7 linked regions of the Homo sapiens genome follow. The protein of the gene in region 7 purifies or fractionates together with the protein of the main gene of each other region. This does not show direct contact. Each region holds a gene or a part of one and is shown on either strand. Other genes may lie near its edges.

Region 1 (3,500 bases), on a different chromosome or scaffold from region 7:
GCCACCACACCTGGCTGATTTTTGTATTTTTAGTAGAGATGGGGTTTCGCCATGTTGGCCAGGCTGGGCTCGAACTCCTGACCTCAGGTGATCCACCTGCCTTGTTCTCCCAAAGTGCTGGGATTATAGGCGTGAGCCACTGCTCCCGGCCCCAATATAGGTTTTAAATTTTCTTGGTATATGAAACCCAAAACTCTGCCAACGATTTGTATTTACTTAGTGTCTTCTGCAACCTTTATCACAGCATTGGTACTCAAATACCTTTATCCTGACAAGTCTGGATGAAGCTACTTATCAAATACAGAGACAGGACAGTTCAATGTATAAATACAGCTTATGATTATTCTGCTTTAACTCACCGCTGAGGCTGAGCAGGCCATGGGGTCTGGTTTGGCGTGGGAACTGAATTCGTGGGACTCACTAGCATGGCACTATAGATATTGGAAGCAACCACAAGTATGCAGAGAAGAATAGGACCGATGATTGCTCCTTCCAGGCCTAGGTAGTATGCTCCACCGGCCACTGCCAAGCCTGTCAGGTAAGGATGGCCACCTCTGGAATAAAGAGCACGACCTTTAACACACAAAAACTGGAAAAAATCTGAAATACATTTCTAATACAATGTGCATTCTTTAATACACTATGCTTTTTAGCATATTATCAGCTTTCTTTAGATCACCTCGATGCATACAACTGAACACTGACTGCAATAATATTGAGATGCAACAATATTGAGATGCAACAATTGTTTTTCCTATGGATGACATCTGCCTCTTTTTATAGCTCCAGGAATGAAAGAATAAAGCCAGCAATGTTAACAGATATTTTATACCCATTACAGGTGCCTGCCTATGATGGGTTAATGTTGGCTTGGGACTGGTTAGGAGTCACCTGTTAAGTTAACCTCCATCAAGGATAATTAAGTGAGCACAATTTAGCATGTAATTCAGTTAATTATGCTTTTATATGACGACAGCAACAATGAGAGCATCCCTGTTACTCATAGGTCAGACTTTTGGCAACCTCCTAAAATATAGTTTTTAACATAGGTGATGATAAAAGGCCTCCTGAGGAAAATATCTGTCACAAAGCCCAAGATTTCTATTTCACAGGAGAATCACAAATGCCCTCCAGCTTATTACAGTATCACTTATGTAAGCGGAATGAAATAAAACAGAACACAGTAGCATAGCACATTGATAATGACAAGAAAGGACCACTGACATCAGAAGGACTGGGAAATAAGTCACATTCTGTTTGTTTCTAGTTTTAAACATAGATGAGAAGAACAATTCAGTGAGGGGCAAATAACTAAATATCCTGGAAGGATGTTCTATATTACAGCTAAATCAAAGTAAGACTTGTGGAGAACCAGTCTTCAGGAAACCAATAAATTATATTCATAATGTGTTTGTCTTTCTCATTCCAAAAAAATGATTTAGGGCAGTATTCCATGTTTGCTAAGTAAACTTCTTCCCTAAACAACACATTCAAGGAAAACTATCAAAAATGCTTAAAGCTTTTTATTCCGCTCCATCACCCAGGCTGGAATGCAGTGCCGCAATCACAGCTTACTGCAGTCTTGACCTCCCAGACTCAAGTGATCTTCCTACCTCAGCCTCCTGAGTAGCTGGGACTACAGGCATGTGCCACCACACCAAACTAATCTTTATATTTTTGTGGAGAACGGGTTTCACCATGTTTCCCCGGCTGGTCTTGAGCTCCTGGGCTCAAGTGATCCACCCACCTCGGCCTCTCAAAGTGGTAGGATTACAGGCTTGAGCCACTATGCTCAGCCTTAAAGCTTTTTTTAAAAAAAATAAAAACGTGTGGGAGTTTATGAATAAAAGCTTAACCTATTAAAAAATAAAACAATTTATGCCAAACCTTTCATTTCCCAATAACAACGTTTAAAGACAGTATTTTAGGCCGGGCATCGTGGCTCATGCCTGTAATCCCAGCAGTTTGGGAGGCCAAGGCAGGCGGATCACTTGAGGTCAGGAGTTCAAGATCAGCCTGATCAACATGGTGAAATCCCATCTCTAGTAAAAATACAAAAATTAGCCGGGTGTGGTGGTGCACGCCTGTAATCCCAGCTACTCAGGAGGCTGAGGCAGGAGAATGGCTTGAACCTGGGAGGCGAAGGTTGCAGTGAGGCGAGATTGCACCACTGCACTCCAGCCTGGGTGATAGAGGGAGACTCTGTCTCAAAAAAAAAAAAAAAAAAAAAAAAAGACAGTGTTTCTTTAATTCCAGCTGTAAACCTTAATATAAAATTTACAGCAAAGTTTAAAGAAATAAAAGCACTTAAGTATTAATCATACTTATTCCTGCTCAAATGTCAACTGTGACACACTAGTTAACCACACTATGATGTTCAGCTTTTTAATTTTCTCTCTCAAGTTTTAATGTGACTGAGAACTGGCTTGATATACTTAATGCAATTTCTAAAAGAGATGTCAAAACCTATAAAAACAGACATTTATTTATTGTATTATATGGCTAAAGTGTTGATTCTGACTTAGATTTAACCTGTATTTATCATAGAACCATTCCAATTATATCTTTAGAGAGCTCTGCTTGCCAGAAATTAACTTGCTGAGATTTGGTTTCACATGGATATCCTCAGACATACAATCTAACAACATTTTCTCCAAAACCAAAGAAGAGATAAAAATAATCATTAACTGTTCACTGTACTTAAAATATTTGATGTACATCTGGTCATAATTCTTTTCTAGGTTAAATGTCACTAAATCAAGAGAAAATTATTCACAATTTGGTTTTAACCCAGGACATCATATATATTATAAATATTACATATGTAATAAGAAAATATTGGCTGGGCATGGTGGTTCATTCCCGTAATCCTAGTGCCTTGGGAAGTTCAAGGCAGGAGGACTGCTTGAGCCTAGGAGTTCAAGGTTCAAGGCTGCCATGAGCCATGACTGCACCCTGCACTCTAGCAGTCTGAGTGAAAGAGATATTGTCTCAAAAAAAAAAAAAAAAAAAAGTTGCTCTGGAACTCTGGGGCAACAACAACCAAAAAAAAAAAAAAAAACCCCAAAATATCATGCCTTGTAAACAATACTATTTTCAATGAAAATTTCATTTGTGGGAACACAAAAGGCTATTTCACTGAAAATTCCTACTACCAGTTCTTTTGTATACCCCCAGGAGAAAAAAATCCTCCTTTAAAAAAAAAAAAACGGAAATGCCTGGATGATTCACTAATAAGAAATTCTGTGGCTTACTTACCCTGATATGTCAGAGTAGATTGCAGTATCTACAAAGTATGTTGGCAAGAGATGAAAAATCAACAGTAAAATGGCCTTGCATCCTAACCCTTGTGTCAGCCACAGGTCAAGAACTGCAGGTACTGCTGCCCAGTATGTCCCCAGGAATGGCACTGCTCCAAGGATTGCTGCTAATGCTGAAAAAAGAGTAAAAGAAAAACAACTTAACATCATCAGCAAAACACTAACAAAGCAAAAGAATCT
Region 2 (3,500 bases), on a different chromosome or scaffold from region 7:
GGTTTGGCACCAGACGGCCTGGGCTCGGATTCCACTGAGCTACTTTTTACTTGTGTAAACCTCAGCAAGTTACTCAAACCTTCTAAGCCTTAATTTCCTCGTCTATAAACTGGCGATGACATTGTAAGTAGCTGCTTCATAGAGCTGCTGTCAGGATTCATTGGGACGTTGGTGAAAAGTGCTCAGTACATTCACTTTCAATACTAGCTGATAAAAGAATCCTAACAATAGAAACATTAACTTAAACACTCAGGGTCTCACCTTCAAATACTAGCTTTTCATGTCCTTACTTGGCTGATAAGCCACGCTGTCTATAAACTAAATAACTGAAGACAAGGTAACAATTAAATTAATGAAATAATAAAACTATAAAATTAATAACTAGAAAATATCCAGAATACCATGATAAGATTGTCTAAGAATTTTTTTTTAAATCATTTGAAGGGCTACCCCTTTTTCAGAGTAAGACTCACACCTACCATATCCCTGACCTGCAACTGTCCAGCCCCTCCAGAGCTGGGGCATCCTGATTGAGTAGGGGAGCCATTATATTTTCAGCTAATACCCATTTTATGAGGAACATTCTGTAAAACCAAAATTGATCTTCCCTTAGTGAACACCCACTAGTCTTGTTTCACCCAGTGGCATTCCTCAGACAGAGCAACTTTAAATAAGTGCAGATGGCTGTCTTGTTCTCCACTGAACAGGCTCTCCTAGGGGTGAAAGCTCCCAGGTCCTCAACCCTTCCTCACAGTACGTGGTTTCTAGCCCCTATCATTCTGATGTTGCTTTTCTGAGCATGCTGGTCTGGGAATGTCTCTTTTGAAAGGGGCTACTCAAAGTAAACATTATCTTCCAGAGGTGGTCTTGGCATACTGAACAGAGTCAGATGTTACTTCCCTTTTTCTTAACACAGTCCACAGTCAAGGAACACATTCCCTTCCCTGGAAGACATATTTCACTGCTTCCAGTCAACTAAAATCCCCATGCTTCATGCACACTTCCTTCCAGCCATGCCTTCCCATCAACATTTATCTGTTTTGTCTCATCCATTTATGAGCAGGATTTTACATGTATTCCTATCTACTTCATTTGATTGACATCTTGATACTATCCTGGCCTCTCTAGATCATTGTGGATTATGAGTCTATCAGCCACTGGCTGGCATATACAGTTTCAAGTCACACAAGCATTGCTTTAGCAGGTCATCCATGCTAGTCACTGACAAAGCTATTGAACAGAGTCCTGCCATCTGCTATCCGGATCTGCCTTCAGCCTCACAGGGGCTTATTAACTACCACTCTTTACCCTTGATTATTAGACCAGTGTGGGGGACATACCCCAAGGTGGCCCCTAGTGACTCAGGCCCTTGTGTAATCCCTTCCCCTTGAATGTTTGCTTACAGCCCATCTTCTGATGCCCTGAAATTCTCTTTATGTTAAACTCCCTAAGGGTGAGGACCGTTGGTTTCATTTGTATACCCCAGACTGCTGAGCACAGCATCTTCCACCAGTACTTTCAACTTAAAACCTGTGAAAATAGTTTGTGACTGGAAAATACTGTTAATATATGATGCTACAATTCTTCAACTGTGGACTTAGTCTGAGTCAAGGACTTTTAATTTATATGGATGATCTGGATAACAGTAAAATTCAGATTATACGTATGTATTCATTCATTTATTTGTTTATTTAGGAGATGGGATATTGCTATGTTGCCCAGGCTGGTCTCAAACTCCTGGTCTCAAGCGATCCTCCCACCTCAGCCTCCGAAAGTGTTAAGATTACAGGCATGAGCCAGCACACCTACCAAAACTCAGATTTTATAAGCAAGACACATCGTTTCCTTCCTCTGTGACCTTACTGTGACCTCTGTGTTACTGTGATGGCCAACCATTCATCTACTCATGACATGTAACTCCCTTAATGGTAGCTTTGTGACCCAAAAGACTTGATCTTGCTTTCAGAGGAGCTTGATTTATATTGCATTGAAATAGCTCAAGGACCAAGAAAATTCAAATTAACCAACCTTTCACTCAACAAATAATTAATGGAGTCCCTTTAAGTACTGTCCACAGATTCTTAGTTACACTTCTTTTCAAGATGTGGAACTTAATTCCACTTGCATTGAGTGTGGGCTGGACTTAGTGACTTATTTCTAAGAAACAGAATGAAGTGGATGTGATGGTGTGTGGCTTCTGAGGCTAGTATGTCATGGTATCTTCCTTCTTGTTCTCTCTCTTGAATTCCTTGTTCTGGCAGCAGCCAGCTGCCACATTGTGAGGACACTCAAGCAATTTCACACAGCAAGGAACTGAGGCCTCCTGCCAAGAGCTATGTGAACAGGCCACTTAAGTAGCAGACCCTCCAGCCACAGTCAAGCCTTCAGATGACTGCAGCTCTGGCTGAGATCTTGACACAACCTCATGAAAAACAGTGAGTCAGGACCATCTAGCTAAGCTGCTCTTGAATTCCTGGTCCACAAAAACTATGAGATGATGAATATTTATTGTTTTAAATTGCCAAGTTTTAGAGTAACTTGTTATGCAGCAATAAACAACTAATACAAATACAAATTCAGAATTTTGACTTACCTTGTAGTATTGTAAAATTCTTGATGAGCTGACCATGCTTGGAGTCTACTAGCTTCATTTCTTCCATAATCACTGATAAGTTGGCTACTTCAGTGTCTAACCTCGACCTCATCAAATCTTGTTGCATCCTGAGAGAAACAGAATCCAAACGGATGTTGGCCAGGGTATTATTCAAGGAGGTCAGATCATCTGTGTGTTTGGTAAGGGTATCTGTGCAAGTGGTCCTGACTTCATTTAGATTGCTGGTCAGCGTCCGCAGGTGGTGGGCTGTGTAACTGATATTGCTAATGATGTTCACAATATCCGTCTCAAAGAGCTGGAAGCGTTCCTCCAGTTGGTTGAACTTGATGGCTGTTCTATTCTCTGCATCTTTGTGTAAGTCCTGCAGGTCTTTCAGGTTCTGCTCGTTGGCTTGAGAGATAGTGGTGATGTTCTCCATCTGACCTGTGAATGAGTTGAGCTGGCTGTTCATATCCTCCAGGGTGTCGTTGTTGGCTTTGGCCAACGCAGAGTTGTTGGCAGCCAGCGTCTGCAAGCTCTGCACTTTCTCCTTCAGCCAATCCGTGTCCTTCTTGGCTTGAAGAAAAACCTGCTGCAGATTTTGAAAGTCGTTCTTGATTCGCTGGATAGCCTGGCTTGTGTCATCCACAGACCGCTGCAGATTCGTGATGAGGTTCCTCTGCTGCACCTGGGTCAGGTTCAGGTTGTTGAGGTTCATGATGACCACATTATGAGAATACATTTGGTTCTGCAGATTGCCCTGGAGCACGCTGGTATCTTGCTGCAGATTCGTGACATAGCCATTATACGCCTGGAGGGTTTTGTTTACAGTGGTGATGAGGAAAGAGTTATTCTCCAAAGTTTCTTTCAATTGACTCTGCCTGTCCACCAGAGCATCCCCGCTCGC
Region 3 (3,500 bases), on a different chromosome or scaffold from region 7:
AGGGGACACCATTATGCAGTTTTAATCTTAAATTTAAAATTTCACATTTTTCTTTTTCTCATTGCAAATATTTTGCAATATTATGGAGCATATAGGCATTGTAAACTGAGCTTGGATCCCAACCATGATATGACATTGTATGTGTCCTCAGTTTGTGGTAGAGAAGATTTGTCGTGATCTACTTACCCAACGGCTCCCCTCTTTGAGCCCTATCCCTATCTTCTTGGGTCTAGGAGGAAGACAACCTATTGGCAAAGTAAGCTAATAGAATCTTTGTTCTTGGAACTTGGAATTGAGACCCTTGTGGGTCAGGGTCATTTGAGGAAAAGGAGGCATGTGGGGGCTGAGGCAGTCAGGTTTGGGCCACATACAAGGAGAAGCTGTAAGAAAGGACAAGAGGGATGGGGAAGGGAGAGAGTGGGAAGACAGGAAGAGGAGCAGGAGAAAGACAAAGAGAGACTCATACATGGTGCTTTGGTGCCTGATAGAATTCTACTTCCTGGCACTCCTGTGACCCTTTTTTTTTTTTAAAAAAAGAAACAACTTTATTAAATTTTACTCAAAATTAAAACCACAAAAGTGAAGATGAATGTGCAAACACGTAATAAATGCGGAAATGGTTAGGCAGGAGAAAAAAGATTAAGTTCACAAAAAGTTATTGAACTGTGTCTGTGGCTGCCAGGCAATCTTCATCATAGATCTCTAGTCTCTTCCTTACACAGTGGAGTGTGGCAAGCAAACTGCCCATGTGGCCAAGATTTGTGGTTCTTGTGTTGTACAGACATAGCCATTTGCCTCTACCTACCAGACAGGATTTAGGAAAACACTATAAACTCCCTTAAACTGCTCTTAGGCCAAACATGGCAGAAGAAACCTGGCACACTGATTTTGAGCCACAAGAGAAAGAGGCTGCACAATAGCCTTACACATCCAGTTAATACTGGGCACTTCACTCATACCATGTACATCCTGAACACAGAGGACTTCTGATTTGAAAGACTAACGGATATAACCCATTTGCAGGTAACAGGCTGTTCAGCAGCTGTGAGAGAAAACACTGGCAAAGATACGTGTCCAAGAAGGTGACAAAGCAGAAAAAAATAGTGAGGGAAGAACAAATCATCCTTGGTATCAGGGTACTATTATTTCCTCACACTAAGTCTCCTTTTTGCTAAGTCAGCTTGAATGGGTTTCTGCTACTTGCAGCACAAACTGCATTGACTATGACCATTCTGCTCATTCTAGACTAATGACTTTAAAACTACAGCTCAGCTAGGTCAAGGATCCATCGTGGAAGATGAAGTACAGTAGGTGGTGCAAGAGTTGCTAAGGAGAATTAGGACACTGTCCTAGACCCTCAGGAATTTACAAACCAGCTTGAAAGACAGCCCAGAAACAGCCAACTGTATCTAAGACAATGTGACTGAAATGTAATTATATTGTGAATGCAACAGAGAAAAGACAAATGTGTCAGTTCTAGGAATGCAATTCACTTATATGTTTGGGACTTCCTATAATATTAGGCCTGCATGCTTTGAACATATGATCCTTTATACTATAGTTATTTTACTTTCATTTCCAATCCTTTAATTTTTCCTCACATATACAGCCTCAGATGCAGAATTGTTCACCAAATCAGTTAAGTGGGCTGAGGTCATTAAGGCAGGTATATTAGATGCCATGGGAGACACAAGAGTACGTGCATTTGTATTTGGAAAAAAAAATATATATATATATATTATGCCTGCTGTTTTTAATGTAGCAGCTGACATTTGAAACCCAAGAACAGATTTCAAAAAGGAAAACCAAAGTGTCACCTTCTTCTTATCAGTTAAAAAGGGCTATACTATGTTTGTGGATGAAGTTACTTGATAAAATTTTTTATTACCTTTCCTTTTTGTGTGTGTGTGTGTGTGTGACGGAGTTTCGCTCTTGTTGCCCAGGCTGGAGCGCAATGGTGAGATCTCGGCTCACTGCAACCTCCACCCCCCAGGTTCAAGCGATTCTCCCACCTCAGCCTCGCAAGTAACTGGGATTACAGGCATGCACCACCACGCCTGGCTAATTTTTTGTATTTTTAGTAGAGACGGGGTTTCTCCATGTTGGACAGGCTGATCTTGAACTCCCAACCTCAGGTGATCTGGCTGCCTCGGCCTCCCAAAGTGCTGGGATTACAGGCGTGAGCCACCGCGCCCAGCCTATATTACCTTTCTTCAGCATTAATAAATAAAAATGTAATAGATAAGTGTAAGACTCAAGTTTAATCCAACTCCTTTTTCATCTTTCAGGTATACAGAATGTAAGCTTTGCTAGGATCATAAAGAATCAGAAATGTGGATGATTTTACCCCAGAAAACCATGTTGAATATTGACTATATTATTTTTAAAAAAGAGAAGAGCCTATAGCTGTCACCCCTAACAGATTGTCTTGTTGCCGTTCCTGCCAACTTCTGAGGGAAGAAATATTTCCATTCTGTTCCAATTTTCAACACAAATAAGGAAGTAATATGGCTGATTTCCGTTCTGGTGACTCAATATTAAGTTGGCTGAGGAAACTGATGTTTGCAGAAATAGTTCTGGGAAAATGCAAAGCAGGGAAACACATTGATGCCCAGGTGGTATTTTTTTTTTTTAAACTCCAATTATATTGGGATATTAGTGCTTCATTCTCTATAATCAAATGTGTTCTAGGCTGCATTTACAGCTCATCCACCCTTCTCTGCCTGCACTGTCACACTTGGAAAACGGACCAGTTCCTACAGCAGGCACACAAATTGACAAAGCAGCATTCTGAATCGGCAAAGGGGAGAAAAAGCAAATGAAGAGCAGGTTGTTAGCACTACCCTACCCTTTGCAAAGAATAAACACAAAGTTGTTCTGCCTAGACTCAAGCATTATTATAGGGATCTGTAACTAAAAAAGGTTAGTGACATTCAAACAGAAATCACTATCCTGAGGGCCATTTACTCAAAAGTTTCTAATTAAAATAGCCTTTATATTACTACCTTGGAGCTATCACATACCCCATAACTAGCATTTGGTCAGTCTGAGCTCAAACTTCAACATATCTTCTGGCACCTGGAGAAACATCGTCTGTATTTATCAGAGCTTTGCTTTAAACCCAGGATTATTTCAGTTATACCCATAACTTATATCCTTTTTGCCATAGGTATATTTGCTGAATAGCTACTGGATGCAAATGACAAAAACATCAATGAAACAGGCTTAGATTTATGATCTTCCCAGGCCATTTTTCCCCCTCTATAGTCTGAAACATCTCTATTTGAAACTCAGTCTAGTTAAAACAGAACTCCTCTTACCCTCAGATCTACTTGTTCAGCTTATGAACAGCTTAGATAATAGCCAGACAATTCTTCCAGTTTTGCAGTATCAAAATTGTAAGACAATCATGGCTCAGTGGTTAGGAGAATGGGCTCTAGAGTTAAGGTGCCTGATCCTACCCCTGGGTGAAGCCATAGGCTTGCAAGGCCTTAGTTTTC
Region 4 (3,500 bases), on a different chromosome or scaffold from region 7:
TTTTTATGGCTTTGGCTAAAGCAAGTGAAGCAGCGGAGGTACTAAGGTGCTAAACTGAGGCCTCTTGGTCTCTGTGTACAAAACAAAAGGAGGGGGGCAGGGGACAGCCATCAAGCCCTCTTGAGCCTCCAGCTGAGTGGAAGCAAATGGAAGATCTTCAGGGCAGGGGGGAGGCTGGGGGATAGGGTTTAGCAGCCTCCTCCCCCCATACCCTCTGCAGCCCTGCACTCCCACACATCTGTCCCTGCTGATAGTGTCTATTGGAAGGGAGGCAGTTAATCTCCCCTACACTCTGTTGTTAATCCCTGACAGCAGCTGGAACAGAGATGGCAGAAAGGACCTATGTCAACCCCATGAGGCTTCTCCTTTGGGGCAGATAAACAGCCAGGAGCCTGGGGAAACAGGGATGAGAAGGGCATTGGTTTAGGCAGTGAGGCTCGGCCACTCCCTTGGGTCCCATCTGTAGCTCTGCCCACCAAACTTGATGGGGGGGGGATGGGGGAATATCCTCTGGATGAGCAGAGCCAGCTAAGAGGAGCCAAATGTCCCTGATAGGATGGGGGAGAGGCAGGACTGGGGGAATGTCAGGAGCTGGAATTGGTCCCAGAAGCCCTTCTGACTCATTCAGACCTGGACTCCTCCAGGATCTGGGGTAGGTTCTGATCCCGGGGGCCAGGGGCTGGGGCTGGAGTTGGGGCTGGGGCTGGGGCTGAGGCTGGAGCTTGGTTGGGAGCTGCTGTAGGGGTGGGGACCTGGGCAGGGCCTGAAGTGGGTAGGGGAGGTTTGCTGCCAGGATGGTACTCGTGGGCAGCCTTGGGCTCATTGGTATGGTAGGAGCCCTTATAGCGATGATTTTGCAGATAGAAGAGCACCAACATTCCCACCAGCCCCAGCAGCAGAAAGGCCACCAAAACTGAAAAGAAGAAAAGGGACAATTCAGATCTTTGGGATCTCACCTGTATACACACACACACACACACACACACACACACACACGCACTCTTTGAGATTTCACCTGTATACATACACACACTTTGGGATTTCACCTGCACACACACACACACACACACACACACACACACACATTTACTTTTGGCCAAAAGCATAATGTATGACCCTCAGTTAGCTGTTCGACCACACTAAACTCATCTCAAGTGTCTGGCAGGTTTGAATTCCTGGCTTACCCCCTGCCACCTTCTGTTTCTAATATTCTCTTTCCACATCCCTGGTAGTTACCCCAATTTCTTATCTCTCTAGGTGTTACTGTATCCCCATTTTCCCATCCCTTAGCTATAGTCTCATTTTAATATTTTATTTAAAAATCTGTAGCATCCTCAAACATCTAAAAATCTCTGCCCAGTTATATGTCACCTTCAGCATAGCCTGTCTCATCCTCAAACATCTAAAAATCTCTGCCCAGTTATATGGCACCTTCAGCATAGCCTGTCTCATCATCCTTTGTGCCATTGTGCATCTAGTGCCTTTGCCATCCTGCAGCCTTGGGGATCAGGGGCAGGGAAAGGATGCTGACAGTCAGAGGGTAGTCTTGGGAGGTCAGCTTAGTGATCAGTGCTACTCACAGCCTAAAAGTATGGCAACCCATCCTTCATCATGGTAGTAGGGGAAGTCTGGAGAGGAGAAAGCACCAGTTAGGAGATGCCTCCTCCATGTTAAGAATCATTCCCTTCCGTGTCATCCCTCCCTTCTGTCCTCTGTGTCCTGGGAATGTACCTGGGGGCAGATACCAGGGATCAAGCTCAGGTGGCACCTCTGAAACAAGACGTGGCATAGCTCCGCAATTAGATTCGGACAGTTCTCCCTGAACTCGAAGGGCCTCAGCTAGCTCAGCAGTCATGGGTCGAGGGGTTCGGAAGTGGGTCTTGAGGGGAGCCACGTTGTTGAATCGAACACCAGACAGGCAGCCTGAGAAACCTGGGGTGTTGTAGCGCTGGATCTCCGGGTCAATGACTCCTGTCTCTGAGAGAGAGGCAGGCCCAGAAAGAGGGACTTGGACCCAAAGGCCCTGCCACTCTCACTGTCCACAGGTTTCCCACTCATCCTTCCCACTGCCCTCAGCCATTCCCAGGGCCTTCACTTTCCTTGAGGATCCAGGAACATATGCCACAGCTCCTTGCCTAAAACGCGTCCGCACCCGCAGCTTACCCATCACACGCCCTAAATACAAGGCCTTGGGTGAGTCCAACTGGCTGTCCACCAACAGCGAGAACTTCTGCTCTGTCAGTGGGAAGTAGTCCACCTGAGGTGGGGAGGGGGAGGGGGAGGGCGATGAGGGAGCGGGGACCAGAAGCAGATGCCTGTGGGCTGGACTGGAACTGTGTGGACCCTGGGAATATACTTGGGGGCAGATACTGGAGATCTCTCATTCTGTCCAAACTGGCGGTGCCAGCTGGGTGAGTCCTAGCTCAATCTGAAGTGGGCAACCCCTGGGCCTAGATGTAGGATTTGGTATATATATTTTTATTATTATTATTTTATTTTATTTATTAAATATTTTTCTTTGTGAAGATGAGGTCTTGCTATGTTGCTCAGGTTGGTCTCAAACTCCTGGCCTCAAGCAGTCCTCCCACTTCAGCCTCCCAAAGTGTTGGGATTACAGGTGTGAGCCGCTGCACCTGGCCTATATATTTTTTAAAACCCTGGTTTTAAGCCCCATCTTTGCAGCTTACCAGCGGTTTGACTTTGGGTAAACCACTTTATTTTTTTGAGATGGAGTCTCACTCTGTCGCCTAGGCCTGGAGTGCAGTGGCACGATCTCAGCTCACTGCAACCTCCACCTCCCAGGTTCAAGCAATTTTCCTGCCTCACCCTCCTGAGTAGCTGAAACCGCTTTACTTTCTGAGGCTCTTTACTGATTTGTAAAACACTTAAATAAGAATGCCTATTGTCTGGCTGGGCGCGGTGGCTCACGCTTATAATCCCAGCACTTTGGGAGGCTGAGGTAGGCGGATCATCTGAGGTCGGGTGTTCGAGACCAGCCTGACCAACATGGAGAACTCCTGTCTCTACTAAAAATACAAAATTAGCTGGGCGTTGTGGCGCATGCCTGTAATCTCAGCTGCTCGGGAGGCTGAGGCAGAAGAATTGCTTGAACCCGGGAGGCAGAGGTTGCAGTGAGCTGAGATCACACCATTGCACTCCAGCCTGGGCAACAAGAGCAAAATTCCATCTCAAAAAAAAAAAAAAAATGCCTATTGTCCCCTTGGAGCTATTGTGAGGGTTACATGAGGTGACACACGTGAAAATCCTCTATACATTCAAATGTGATCTACAAATATTAAGTATTTGATGTTTTCCTGGATGCCACAACGGAGACCATGAGGTTATGATCTGAACTGGCTCACCTCCCTCTATGCATACCTGGATGAAGAGGTTCCGGTAAACACGGGTGATATTGATGCTATGGGGCTGGCCATCGGTCACTGGTCGAGTGGTTAGCTGGTACACGTAGGGACTGGTGCCCAGCTGATATCGCAGCTGAA
Region 5 (3,500 bases), on a different chromosome or scaffold from region 7:
GGCCTGGGCCCAATACTGGCGGCCGCTTCTACTTCCTCTACGGCTTCGTCTGGATCCAGGGTGAGGAGCAGGCCCGGAAGACCGGCTGGAGGATTCATGGGGGAGGACAGGTGTGAGGACGAGAGGGCCTGCCCGGCACCTGATGGCTGCCCCCACCCACAGACATGATGGAGCGCGCCATCATCGACACTTTTGTGGGGCACGATGTGGTGGAGCCAGGCAGCTACGTGCAGATGTTCCCCTACCCCTGCTACACACGCGATGAGTGAGTGCTGGGCGCCCGGGGCTGGGGCTGGGGCTGGGGCTGAGTGGCGCCTGAGCGCGGCCTCCCCGCAGCTTCCTGTTTGTCATTGAGCACATGATGCCGCTGTGCATGGTGATCTCCTGGGTCTACTCCGTGGCCATGACCATCCAGCACATCGTGGCGGAGAAGGAGCACCGGCTCAAGGAGGTGCGCGGGCCGGGACTCTCCCTGGAGGCGCGGGCTGGCAGGGAGGGGCGGCGTCCTCCCCGGGGCCTGCCCCAAGCCCCTGGCCCACCCGCAGGTGATGAAGACCATGGGCCTGAACAACGCGGTGCACTGGGTGGCCTGGTTCATCACCGGCTTTGTGCAGCTGTCCATCTCCGTGACAGCACTCACCGCCATCCTGAAGTACGGCCAGGTGCTTATGCACAGCCACGTGGTCATCATCTGGCTCTTCCTGGCAGTCTACGCGGTGGCCACCATCATGTTCTGGTGAGCGCGGGCCATGGTAGGAGGGACCTGGGGCAGGCACTTGCCCAGCAAGCTCACCCCACATCCTCTCAGAGCCCCCTGGACCCTGGCACGGGCCTGCCCAGGAGGCCGGGCGTGCGGGTGGATGACGGTGCGCGTGGCCCCTGCCCACCCAGCTTCCTGGTGTCTGTGCTGTACTCCAAGGCCAAGCTGGCCTCGGCCTGCGGTGGCATCATCTACTTCCTGAGCTACGTGCCCTACATGTACGTGGCGATCCGAGAGGAGGTGGCGCATGATAAGATCACGGCCTTCGAGAAGTGCATCGCGGTGAGGGTCGCGGGCAGGCGGGCGGCTGGGGTGCCGGGCCACCCCACGTGCTGACACCACTGCCTTCTCAGTCCCTCATGTCCACGACGGCCTTTGGTCTGGGCTCTAAGTACTTCGCGCTGTATGAGGTGGCCGGCGTGGGCATCCAGTGGCACACCTTCAGCCAGTCCCCGGTGGAGGGGGACGACTTCAACTTGCTCCTGGCTGTCACCATGCTGATGGTGGACGCCGTGGTCTATGGCATCCTCACGTGGTACATTGAGGCTGTGCACCCAGGTACTGGCCAGCCCTTGGAGGGCAGGGGAGAGGCAGGGGTCCCCAGCCAGGGTTGGGGACCAGCAGTCTGTGTCCACTCCTGGATGCAGCACGGGTGGCTCCCTGGGTGGGCACGTGGCCCACGTGGTGGATGGTCACCCCAGGCCCTAGGTCAGCCTCCCCTCCCCTCCCCGACCCCCAGGCATGTACGGGCTGCCCCGGCCCTGGTACTTCCCACTGCAGAAGTCCTACTGGCTGGGCAGTGGGCGGACAGAAGCCTGGGAGTGGAGCTGGCCGTGGGCACGCACCCCCCGCCTCAGTGTCATGGAGGAGGACCAGGCCTGTGCCATGGAGAGCCGGCGCTTTGGTGAGGCTGGCATCAGAATGGTGGCTGGGGTGGGCGCTGGGTTCAGAGTCCTGGGTGGCCTTGGCGCCGCCCCCACCCTGCTGATCCACAGCCCTGGTGCAGAGGAGACCCGTGGCATGGAGGAGGAGCCCACCCACCTGCCTCTGGTTGTCTGCGTGGACAAACTCACCAAGGTCTACAAGGACGACAAGAAGCTGGCCCTGAACAAGCTGAGCCTGAACCTCTACGAGAACCAGGTGGTCTCCTTCTTGGGCCACAACGGGGCGGGCAAGACCACCACCATGTGAGTGTCGGAGGGGCAGGGCGGTGGGCATCTGCTGACCAGAGCAGGAGTCCTAGTCAGGGCAGGGTGGGGCCCCTGCAGAGGGCGTGGGGTCATGACCCCGCCCACCTACCCAGGTCCATCCTGACCGGCCTGTTCCCTCCAACGTCGGGTTCCGCCACCATCTACGGGCACGACATCCGCACGGAGATGGATGAGATCCGCAAGAACCTGGGCATGTGCCCGCAGCACAATGTGCTCTTTGACCGGCTCACGGTGGAGGAACACCTCTGGTTCTACTCACGGCTCAAGAGCATGGCTCAGGAGGAGATCCGCAGAGAGATGGACAAGTGGGTGGGCTGGGCGGGGGGCGGGGCAGGTGGGCGGAGGCCCTGGGGCTCTGCATAGCAGCAGCCCCATGCCCCACCTCCCTGTCCCAGGATGATCGAGGACCTGGAGCTCTCCAACAAACGGCACTCACTGGTGCAGACATTGTCGGGTGGCATGAAGCGCAAGCTGTCCGTGGCCATCGCCTTCGTGGGCGGCTCTCGCGCCATCATCCTGGACGAGCCCACGGCGGGCGTGGACCCCTACGCGCGCCGCGCCATCTGGGACCTCATCCTGAAGTACAAGCCAGGTGAGTGGGGTGCCGTGTGGGCAGGGGTGCGGGCGGCGCCTCCCCTGCCCCCTGACCCTGGGTCTGGCCTTGTCCTAGGCCGCACCATCCTTCTGTCCACCCACCACATGGATGAGGCTGACCTGCTTGGGGACCGCATTGCCATCATCTCCCATGGGAAGCTCAAGTGCTGCGGCTCCCCGCTCTTCCTCAAGGGCACCTATGGCGACGGGTACCGCCTCACGCTGGTCAAGCGGCCCGCCGAGCCGGGGGGCCCCCAAGGTCTGTGTTGAAGCTGCCTGAGCTGGCTTCGGGCCACCTTCTCCCCGGGACCCCCACCTGAGAATCCACAATGGAGAGGCTGGGCCCTCACCGTCACCCGCTGGGCCCAGGATGCCTGCTGGGGCCTGGCCCGCCCTCTGCAACGCCCGTATCTTGGAGAGGCTGGGTCCTCAGCGTCACCCCCTGGGCCCAGGATACCTGCTGGGGCCTGGTTCTTCCTCTCCAATGCCCATATCTTGACCCAGTTGGGTTCCCATTGGGGGTCCCTCCTCCCAGCCCCTGAGTGAATTCCTTCCTGCTCCCACGTCCCCCACAGAGCCAGGGCTGGCATCCAGCCCCCCAGGTCGGGCCCCGCTGAGCAGCTGCTCCGAGCTCCAGGTGTCCCAGTTCATCCGCAAGCATGTGGCCTCCTGCCTGCTGGTCTCAGACACAAGCACGGAGCTCTCCTACATCCTGCCCAGCGAGGCCGCCAAGAAGGGGGCTTTCGAGCGCCTCTTCCAGGTGTGAGGGCGCACGGGTCGGGGGGCAGTTGCAGGTGGTGGAGGTGGGCGCACTCCTGCCTGGGCGTCCCTGCCGCAGCCTCCCCCTCCACCGCCCCTGCAGCACCTGGAGCGCAGCCTGGATGCACTGCACCTCAGCAGCTTCGGGCTGATGGACACGACCCTGGAGGAAGTGT
Region 6 (3,500 bases), on a different chromosome or scaffold from region 7:
TTTATCACCTCCCTCTATGGGTGGAATGACATGGTAGGCAGGAAAGCACAAAGAACTCAGGCTCTGGAGAATGAGCTTTTAGCTGCACCCTAGGTCAGCAAGGCCGCTGAGTGCTGGCACAGCAGGAGTGTGCAGTTTCAGTCCATGTAGACATTTGCTCTGTGGGCTCTTGTCTGCTGTGGCTTCACTGGATGCTAGGGTGGCAGAGTAGGTGCACACTTGGACAGGTCTCTCCTGCTGGGAGAGCCTGACTGAAATGGGGACTCTCAGAAGCAGTCCCAAGCAGCCAAATCACAGAACACACAAAGCAAGAACCGTATGAAGCACCTGGGGTCGAAGAAGACACCTGCGATTCTGCAAGCCATGGCAGTCCCTTCACTACTTATCCCTATAGATGCCGAGCGGCCACAGACATGAAATGTGGTCTGATAAGAAGAGTTCCAACAGCAAAGATGGCTGCCCTCTGGCTGGTGCAAAAACTCCAGAGAAAACAAACAGCAGGCTGAGATAGCAGGACTAGAGTGGGAGCTGCCAACAGGTGGCACCCCCTCAGCAGTGTTCTGGGTCCTGGGAATGCCCACGCCCAGGAGCTAACCTCCCTCCTTTCTAAAAAAGGTAACCAGTCAGGTGAGGGGTGGACATCTTAGGGAGAGGGGAGAGCCCTCTCCAGCACCACAATCTCATCATCCAATAATCATTCTCCCTTCTCCGGGGAGAAGGATCCAGATCTCCCTCACATACTGAAAGTGCCTTGAGAGGATTCCCAGCCATTCAGCCCTTCCTGGCCACACCTGACTTAAGGGTGGCAGTGCCCCGAGCTCTCCAGGCTGAGCGCATCCAGACCCTGATGCGCCTGCCATTCAGGACCACATGCGCCCAAGGACCTTGTCCATGTACAGCTGTGCCTGTGCCACATGCTCTGGGGCTTGGGCAGGGAGCTTCCTCACCCGCGTTGGTGTCAGGGTTACAGTTCTGGGTCTTGACTGAACCTCTCCTACTGAGTCTTCGGGCAGCGGAGCAGCAGGGCCACAGAAGAACACTGACCGCCAGGACATCTCCAGTGTGGTGGGGACAGTGGAAAGGGCCCTGGCAAGGGCCCAGGTCCTCCAAAGGCCCTGCCTCACCCCTTGAAATACCCACCTGTTCACAGCTGCCTCCTTCCCAAAGCCCCTCTGGCTATAGCAGTGAGGACAGGAGCCTAGGTTCAACCTAATATACTTCAATAGAAAGTTTTAGAAAAAAAATCAATAGAAAACAAAAACAACAACAAAAAACAACAGCAACAAGAGAAAACAAAGCCATAGCTGCTGAATGTAAAGGGGGCCTCCTGAGGGGGGCAGCCCTACACTTACCAGGTGGCACTGCTCTCCTTCCTCAGTTACTGTTCATCCTCAGCCTAAACTGGCTCCTGGCAAACTGTCCGTCCAGACTCCCGCGCACACACATCCTCTTTCCCCCCAACGGACCCACTCAGTTTACCCTTCTTCCAGCTAAACTTCTTCAGTTCCATACCTGACACCATATGGTCTTGAATCTCATTCTCCTCGTCCTCCTAGTGACTCTACTCTAGGCTGGACCTGCTAACCCACTGAGCCCAGAACAAGAACCAGTGCTTCCGGCCTGCTCAGACCCACACCGAACCTGAGCGGGCTCTCCCAGCTCCCTTCGGTAGACACTGCCCACAAGAGACCAGCCCTGCTGCCCTCACCTGGTCGCACGTTGTTGGTTTTGGTCACCTAGATGCCACTGGAACACCCCATGGCTCTCCCCTCTCCCTAAGATGTCCGATGTGCTGAGCTCAGGCTCCCATCCAATCTCACCTCTGCAGCGCGGCACTTCTCCGGGCCATCACCGCCCGTTTCTCCCCTCCTGCCTCAGAAGAGGCATCTGAACTCCATGCTCCCTTTCTCTCCTCTCTTCCCTTCTCCCTCCTTCCTCCTCAGTCAGGAAGCACCTCTCCAACGCACCACTCCTCTACCTGCATTCGACATTGCCACCCACAGATCTGTTCATGAGCCCTTCTCTGAGGAAGAGGAGGCCCTTGCCCTCTGCCTGCCATCCTGCTTCTCTAGCTTTCACTGCTCAGCTTCTAAAAGGATTTTTAAATATTCAGGGCCTTCATCTCCTCACTGCGCTTTCTAAATCACCTGCGCTTTCACTTCCACTGTCACTCCCCACTCTACTGCAGCTCTCTGATGGGCCAGGAGCTTCTCTGGTGCTATCAATTCTGATTCTTTGGCCTTTGCAGCAGCAAACACCGACGGCTGTCCCCTAATGAATCCCCTCCTCCCTCCTGGATGGTCATTCTTGGGGTCCTCAACCCTAGGCCTCTTCTTTTGTCCTTCAACATTCCCCCATAAGGGATGTGACCCTTTGTGGTGCTGATCCTCACCAGCAGATGGGAGATTCCTATTTCTACAGTTCCATGTCTGACTCTTCTGCTGAGTTCCATTTAATTCATCTTCTCTTACCCAGTCACTGCATCAGAGGTTCTGATTCTGTCAACAGCACTATCATTCTCCATCTCTCGGTTGGAAGTCAGCCCTGACCTTGCCAGACCTAGCTATAACCCACTGACACCACGCTGTGTGAATCACTGTCAGCTCCTCCTTGGACCAAAAATCTCCTTGCTGGTCTCCACACTTGTAGCCACTCCCCTTCAATTATTATATGTTGTCACCAGACTGATTTTCCTAAACCAGCTTATCCAAGACTTTGCTTCCCAGCATCACCAGGATAAATGTTTAACTCTGCAGGCTGATAGTCAAACTTTCACAATTTGGGCCTTGTCAATCTTTCATTCTCATTCCCTCAACTCCATTCATAACTGTCTTGCACCAAACACTTGATCTCCACCATTTCTTCTCCAGTCTCTCCCATCTCAGGGATACTACCACCACCCAACCCACAGAGGCTCAGTGCTGAAGCTGGGAGCCATCCTTCCTTTCTCCCTTCTCCCACACGCCTTGGCCAGCAGACCACTAACCTCATCAAGTCTTCCTCAAAAATGTATCTAGAATCTATCTGCCTCTCAACCCCAAGGACATTCTATCTAACTTCCTTTCAGCTAGCCTTTCCCCTCCAACCCCTGCATCTGTCAGCCACAGTTATCTTTTTTTTTTTTTTTTTTTTTTTTTTGAGACAGAGTCTGGCTTTATTGCCCAGGTTGGAGTGATCTCAGTTCACTGAAACCTTCACACCCCCAGGTTCTAGCAATTCTCCTGCCTTGGCCTCTCGAGTAGCTGGGATTACAGGCACCCACCACCACGCCCAGCTACACAGTTGTCTTTTTAAAATATAAACCAAGACCGGGTGCCATGGCTCACACCTATAATCCCAGCACTTTAGGAGACCAAGGCAGGCAGATCACTTAAGCCCAGGAGTTCAAGAACAGCCTAGGCAACATGATGAAACCCCGTCTCTACCAAAAATACAAAACAACAACAACAACAACAAAAAAACCTGGGGATGGTGGCGCATGCCTGTGGTCCCAGCTACTT
Region 7 (3,636 bases):
TGCATGCCTGTAATCCCAGCTACTTGGGAGGCTGAGGCAGGGGAATTGCTTGAACCTGGGAGGCAGAGGTTGCAGTGAGCCGAGATCGTGCCATTGCACTCCAGCCTGGGCAACAAGAGCAAAACTCTGTCTCAAAAAAAAAAAAAAAAAAAAAAAGTCTAACTTCAGTGCATTGCAACACATCAGATATGGTTAAATGTAGGAGTTTATAATGATACTTTAAAGAGAGAAATCTAGTCCCTAATTGCTTGATCTTCTCTCTGGTAATTATTAGGGAGATTAAGAGTCACAAGTACAAGAAGCCACAGAGAAACAGGCATAGTCTAGAAGGGCAGTGTATCCCATGCCCATAGCTGTGCCCTGCCCATGGCCCATTAAACAGCGGCCATGAGACCTTTTCCTGTTGTACGTGTGTGTGTGTGCACGTGTGTGGTCTTCACCAGCGGGGAAGCTGCAGTCCTACTTTGTCTGTTCTTACTGTGCTGGAAGGTTTAACATATGGGATTTAATTGTGGTTTTATCTCCAAATTTTTTAATTATACAGATGCGTCTTGACATACAATGGCGTTATGTCCCAATAAACTCATTGTAGGTTGTAGATATTGTAAGTTGAAAATGCATTCAATACACCTACCCTACTGAACATCATAGCTTAGCCTAGTCTACCTTAAATGTGCTTAGAACATTTACATTAGCCTACAGTTGGGCAAAATCATCTAACACAAAGCCTATTCTGTAACAAAGTGTTGAATGTCTGATGTAACGTATGGAATACAGTACACGATGCAGTACTGGTTGTTTACCCTTGTGATTGTGTGGCTCACTGGGAGCTACAGCTCACTGCTGCTGCCCAGCCTCAGTACAGAGTGTTGTACTACACATCGCTAGCCTGGGAAAAGATCAAAACTCAAATTTTGAAGTATGGTTTCTGCTAAGCGCAGATTACTTTCACACCATCATAAAGTTGGAAAATTGTAAGTCGAACCATTTTAAGTCAGCGATCTTCTATACAGGTAATGCATGCTTGTTGATAAAAACTTAAATACAGAAGATATAGAATATGCCTTGTTCCCCATCCTTATTTTTAGTTGCAAAATGGAGAGGTTTCAATTATTTTTTCAAGGTCACTGCTGGTTAGCTGTGGATCAGAGGCTTGAACTAAGATACTGACTTCAAGAAACATACCTCTTTTTCAAGTGGCACAAGTCATCCTTCTTCCATTTTTCTTCAGATAATCATGATGTCATTTCCTTGAAGTTGTTTGAACTGACAGTGGAGAGAACCCCAGAAGAGGAAAAGCTCCATCGAGATGTGTTCTTGCCCTCAGTGGACAATATGAAGCTGCCTGAGAGTGAGCACAGGGGCCCGCGGGAAATGGTCCCATAGTTGGGGAGGAGCTTGCAGTGCTGTACCCATAGCTCACAGGGCGGTCTCTGCTCTGTGTTCTTCTTCTGAAGGGTAGGGAGCACTTTCATCTGCCTTTCCCCTTCAAGTTACAGATGAGCAGCAGGAGGGCCGCTTTGTTTCTCAGTTGGAAAGAGGGGGTCTAAGCTCTGGCTTCCCAGAAGTAGGTGTCAGAAACTGGGGGCCGGACAGCCTATAGTTTGATCCTTCCCTATTGGGTGGGCTCCCTGTTTTCTGACTTGCTTCTCTCTTGCTTCCTCAGTGACAGCTCCACTGCCGCCCCTGAGTGGCCTGGCCCTCTTCCTCATCGTCTTTTTCTCCCTGGTGTTTTCTGTATTTGCCATAGTCATTGGTATCATACTCTACAACAAATGGCAGGAACAGAGCCGAAAGCGCTTCTACTGAGCCCTCCTGCTGCCACCACTTTTGTGACTGTCACCCATGAGGTATGGAAGGAGCAGGCACTGGCCTGAGCATGCAGCCTGGAGAGTGTTCTTGTCTCTAGCAGCTGGTTGGGGACTATATTCTGTCACTGGAGTTTTGAATGCAGGGACCCCGCATTCCCATGGTTGTGCATGGGGACATCTAACTCTGGTCTGGGAAGCCACCCACCCCAGGGCAATGCTGCTGTGATGTGCCTTTCCCTGCAGTCCTTCCATGTGGGAGCAGAGGTGTGAAGAGAATTTACGTGGTTGTGATGCCAAAATCACAGAACAGAATTTCATAGCCCAGGCTGCCGTGTTGTTTGACTCAGAAGGCCCTTCTACTTCAGTTTTGAATCCACAAAGAATTAAAAACTGGTAACACCACAGGCTTTCTGACCATCCATTCGTTGGGTTTTGCATTTGACCCAACCCTCTGCCTACCTGAGGAGCTTTCTTTGGAAACCAGGATGGAAACTTCTTCCCTGCCTTACCTTCCTTTCACTCCATTCATTGTCCTCTCTGTGTGCAACCTGAGCTGGGAAAGGCATTTGGATGCCTCTCTGTTGGGGCCTGGGGCTGCAGAACACACCTGCGTTTCACTGGCCTTCATTAGGTGGCCCTAGGGAGATGGCTTTCTGCTTTGGATCACTGTTCCCTAGCATGGGTCTTGGGTCTATTGGCATGTCCATGGCCTTCCCAATCAAGTCTCTTCAGGCCCTCAGTGAAGTTTGGCTAAAGGTTGGTGTAAAAATCAAGAGAAGCCTGGAAGACATCATGGATGCCATGGATTAGCTGTGCAACTGACCAGCTCCAGGTTTGATCAAACCAAAAGCAACATTTGTCATGTGGTCTGACCATGTGGAGATGTTTCTGGACTTGCTAGAGCCTGCTTAGCTGCATGTTTTGTAGTTACGATTTTTGGAATCCCACTTTGAGTGCTGAAAGTGTAAGGAAGCTTTCTTCTTACACCTTGGGCTTGGATATTGCCCAGAGAAGAAATTTGGCTTTTTTTTTCTTAATGGACAAGAGACAGTTGCTGTTCTCATGTTCCAAGTCTGAGAGCAACAGACCCTCATCATCTGTGCCTGGAAGAGTTCACTGTCATTGAGCAGCACAGCCTGAGTGCTGGCCTCTGTCAACCCTTATTCCACTGCCTTATTTGACAAGGGGTTACATGCTGCTCACCTTACTGCCCTGGGATTAAATCAGTTACAGGCCAGAGTCTCCTTGGAGGGCCTGGAACTCTGAGTCCTCCTATGAACCTCTGTAGCCTAAATGAAATTCTTAAAATCACCGATGGAACCAAACATGAGCTTCTGACTGTGTTCTTTCTTCTAGGAGTGGGTTTGGGGAAAGTTCAGGCCTTTATTCTGAGCAGGCCTTTTTTTTGAGCTTCAAGCCCATCAACCGTTGTTTTGCCTTCTCCTGGGTTGGAAAAGCCCTCAGCTCAGCTCAGAAGGAAAGGGGGTCACCTTGGCTAGGCAGAGGTCTCTGTCTCTTCAGGCTTTCTTTCCTTCCCATGCACTTAAACAGCACAGGCTATAGTGCTCTCCTGCAGGTGGGATTCAGGTGGAGGCATCTTCCTCCCACCTCCCCTCCACAATAGTAGAATGGCTCCAGGGTGCCAGAGGACAAACTGACCTAGAGCTTGGCCTTGGAGCAGGGAGAACTGAAAAAGAAAATGGTGGTTTTGTCTTTTTTGAGTTGAAGGGGAGATTGTATGGACCCGTGGGAGGACCTAGGTGGGCTCTTGAGATGGCCAAGGCAGCAGTGCAGGTGGAAGGGGTCTCATCAGAGGGGAGGGGCA

The links.
Region 1: the proteins of LMAN2L (region 7) and TMEM245 purify together in Homo sapiens (co-immunoprecipitation; 3 studies listed by BioGRID and IntAct, with this or other methods). This does not show direct contact.
Region 2: the proteins of LMAN2L (region 7) and COLEC12 purify together in Homo sapiens (affinity purification with mass spectrometry; 2 studies listed by BioGRID and IntAct, with this or other methods). This does not show direct contact.
Region 3: the proteins of LMAN2L (region 7) and MFAP3 purify together in Homo sapiens (affinity purification with mass spectrometry; 2 studies listed by BioGRID and IntAct, with this or other methods). This does not show direct contact.
Region 4: the proteins of LMAN2L (region 7) and CNTNAP1 purify together in Homo sapiens (co-immunoprecipitation; 3 studies listed by BioGRID and IntAct, with this or other methods). This does not show direct contact.
Region 5: the proteins of LMAN2L (region 7) and ABCA2 purify together in Homo sapiens (affinity purification with mass spectrometry; 2 studies listed by BioGRID and IntAct, with this or other methods). This does not show direct contact.
Region 6: the proteins of LMAN2L (region 7) and KIAA0319L purify together in Homo sapiens (affinity purification with mass spectrometry; 2 studies listed by BioGRID and IntAct, with this or other methods). This does not show direct contact.

Annotation. Positions count from the first base shown.
Region 1 is NC_000009.12:109,032,948-109,036,447, forward strand, and holds part of TMEM245 (transmembrane protein 245), read right to left. Parts: intron 3,434-3,500; coding exon 3,259-3,433; intron 555-3,258; coding exon 360-554; intron 1-359.
Region 2 is NC_000018.10:343,702-347,201, forward strand, and holds part of COLEC12 (collectin-12), read right to left. Parts: coding exon 2,594-3,500; intron 1-2,593. UniProt on the Homo sapiens protein: Scavenger receptor that displays several functions associated with host defense. Promotes binding and phagocytosis of Gram-positive, Gram-negative bacteria and yeast.
Region 3 is NC_000005.10:154,041,967-154,045,466, reverse strand, and holds part of MFAP3 (microfibril-associated glycoprotein 3 isoform 1 precursor), read right to left. Parts: intron 1-3,500. UniProt on the Homo sapiens protein: Component of the elastin-associated microfibrils.
Region 4 is NC_000017.11:42,696,031-42,699,530, reverse strand, and holds part of CNTNAP1 (contactin-associated protein 1 precursor), read right to left. Parts: coding exon 3,379-3,500; intron 2,258-3,378; coding exon 2,164-2,257; intron 1,978-2,163; coding exon 1,732-1,977; intron 1,629-1,731; coding exon 1,581-1,628; intron 914-1,580; coding exon 621-913; 3' UTR 1-620. UniProt on the Homo sapiens protein: Required, with CNTNAP2, for radial and longitudinal organization of myelinated axons. Plays a role in the formation of functional distinct domains critical for saltatory conduction of nerve impulses in myelinated nerve fibers.
Region 5 is NC_000009.12:137,014,738-137,018,237, reverse strand, and holds part of ABCA2 (ATP-binding cassette sub-family A member 2), read left to right. Parts: coding exon 1-60; intron 61-162; coding exon 163-265; intron 266-336; coding exon 337-451; intron 452-545; coding exon 546-736; intron 737-891; coding exon 892-1,042; intron 1,043-1,113; coding exon 1,114-1,318; intron 1,319-1,499; coding exon 1,500-1,664; intron 1,665-1,766; coding exon 1,767-1,947; intron 1,948-2,063; coding exon 2,064-2,276; intron 2,277-2,366; coding exon 2,367-2,563; intron 2,564-2,641; coding exon 2,642-2,824; intron 2,825-3,140; coding exon 3,141-3,325; intron 3,326-3,427; coding exon 3,428-3,500. UniProt on the Homo sapiens protein: Probable lipid transporter that modulates cholesterol sequestration in the late endosome/lysosome by regulating the intracellular sphingolipid metabolism, in turn participates in cholesterol homeostasis.
Region 6 is NC_000001.11:35,435,404-35,438,903, forward strand, and holds part of KIAA0319L (dyslexia-associated protein KIAA0319-like protein), read right to left. Parts: intron 195-3,500; coding exon of another isoform or gene 79-194; exon of another isoform or gene 1-78.
Region 7 is NC_000002.12:96,705,429-96,709,064, reverse strand, and holds the end of LMAN2L (VIP36-like protein isoform 2 precursor), read left to right. Parts: intron 1-1,231; coding exon 1,232-1,351; intron 1,352-1,666; coding exon 1,667-1,809; 3' UTR 1,810-3,136; downstream 3,137-3,636. UniProt on the Homo sapiens protein: May be involved in the regulation of export from the endoplasmic reticulum of a subset of glycoproteins. May function as a regulator of ERGIC-53.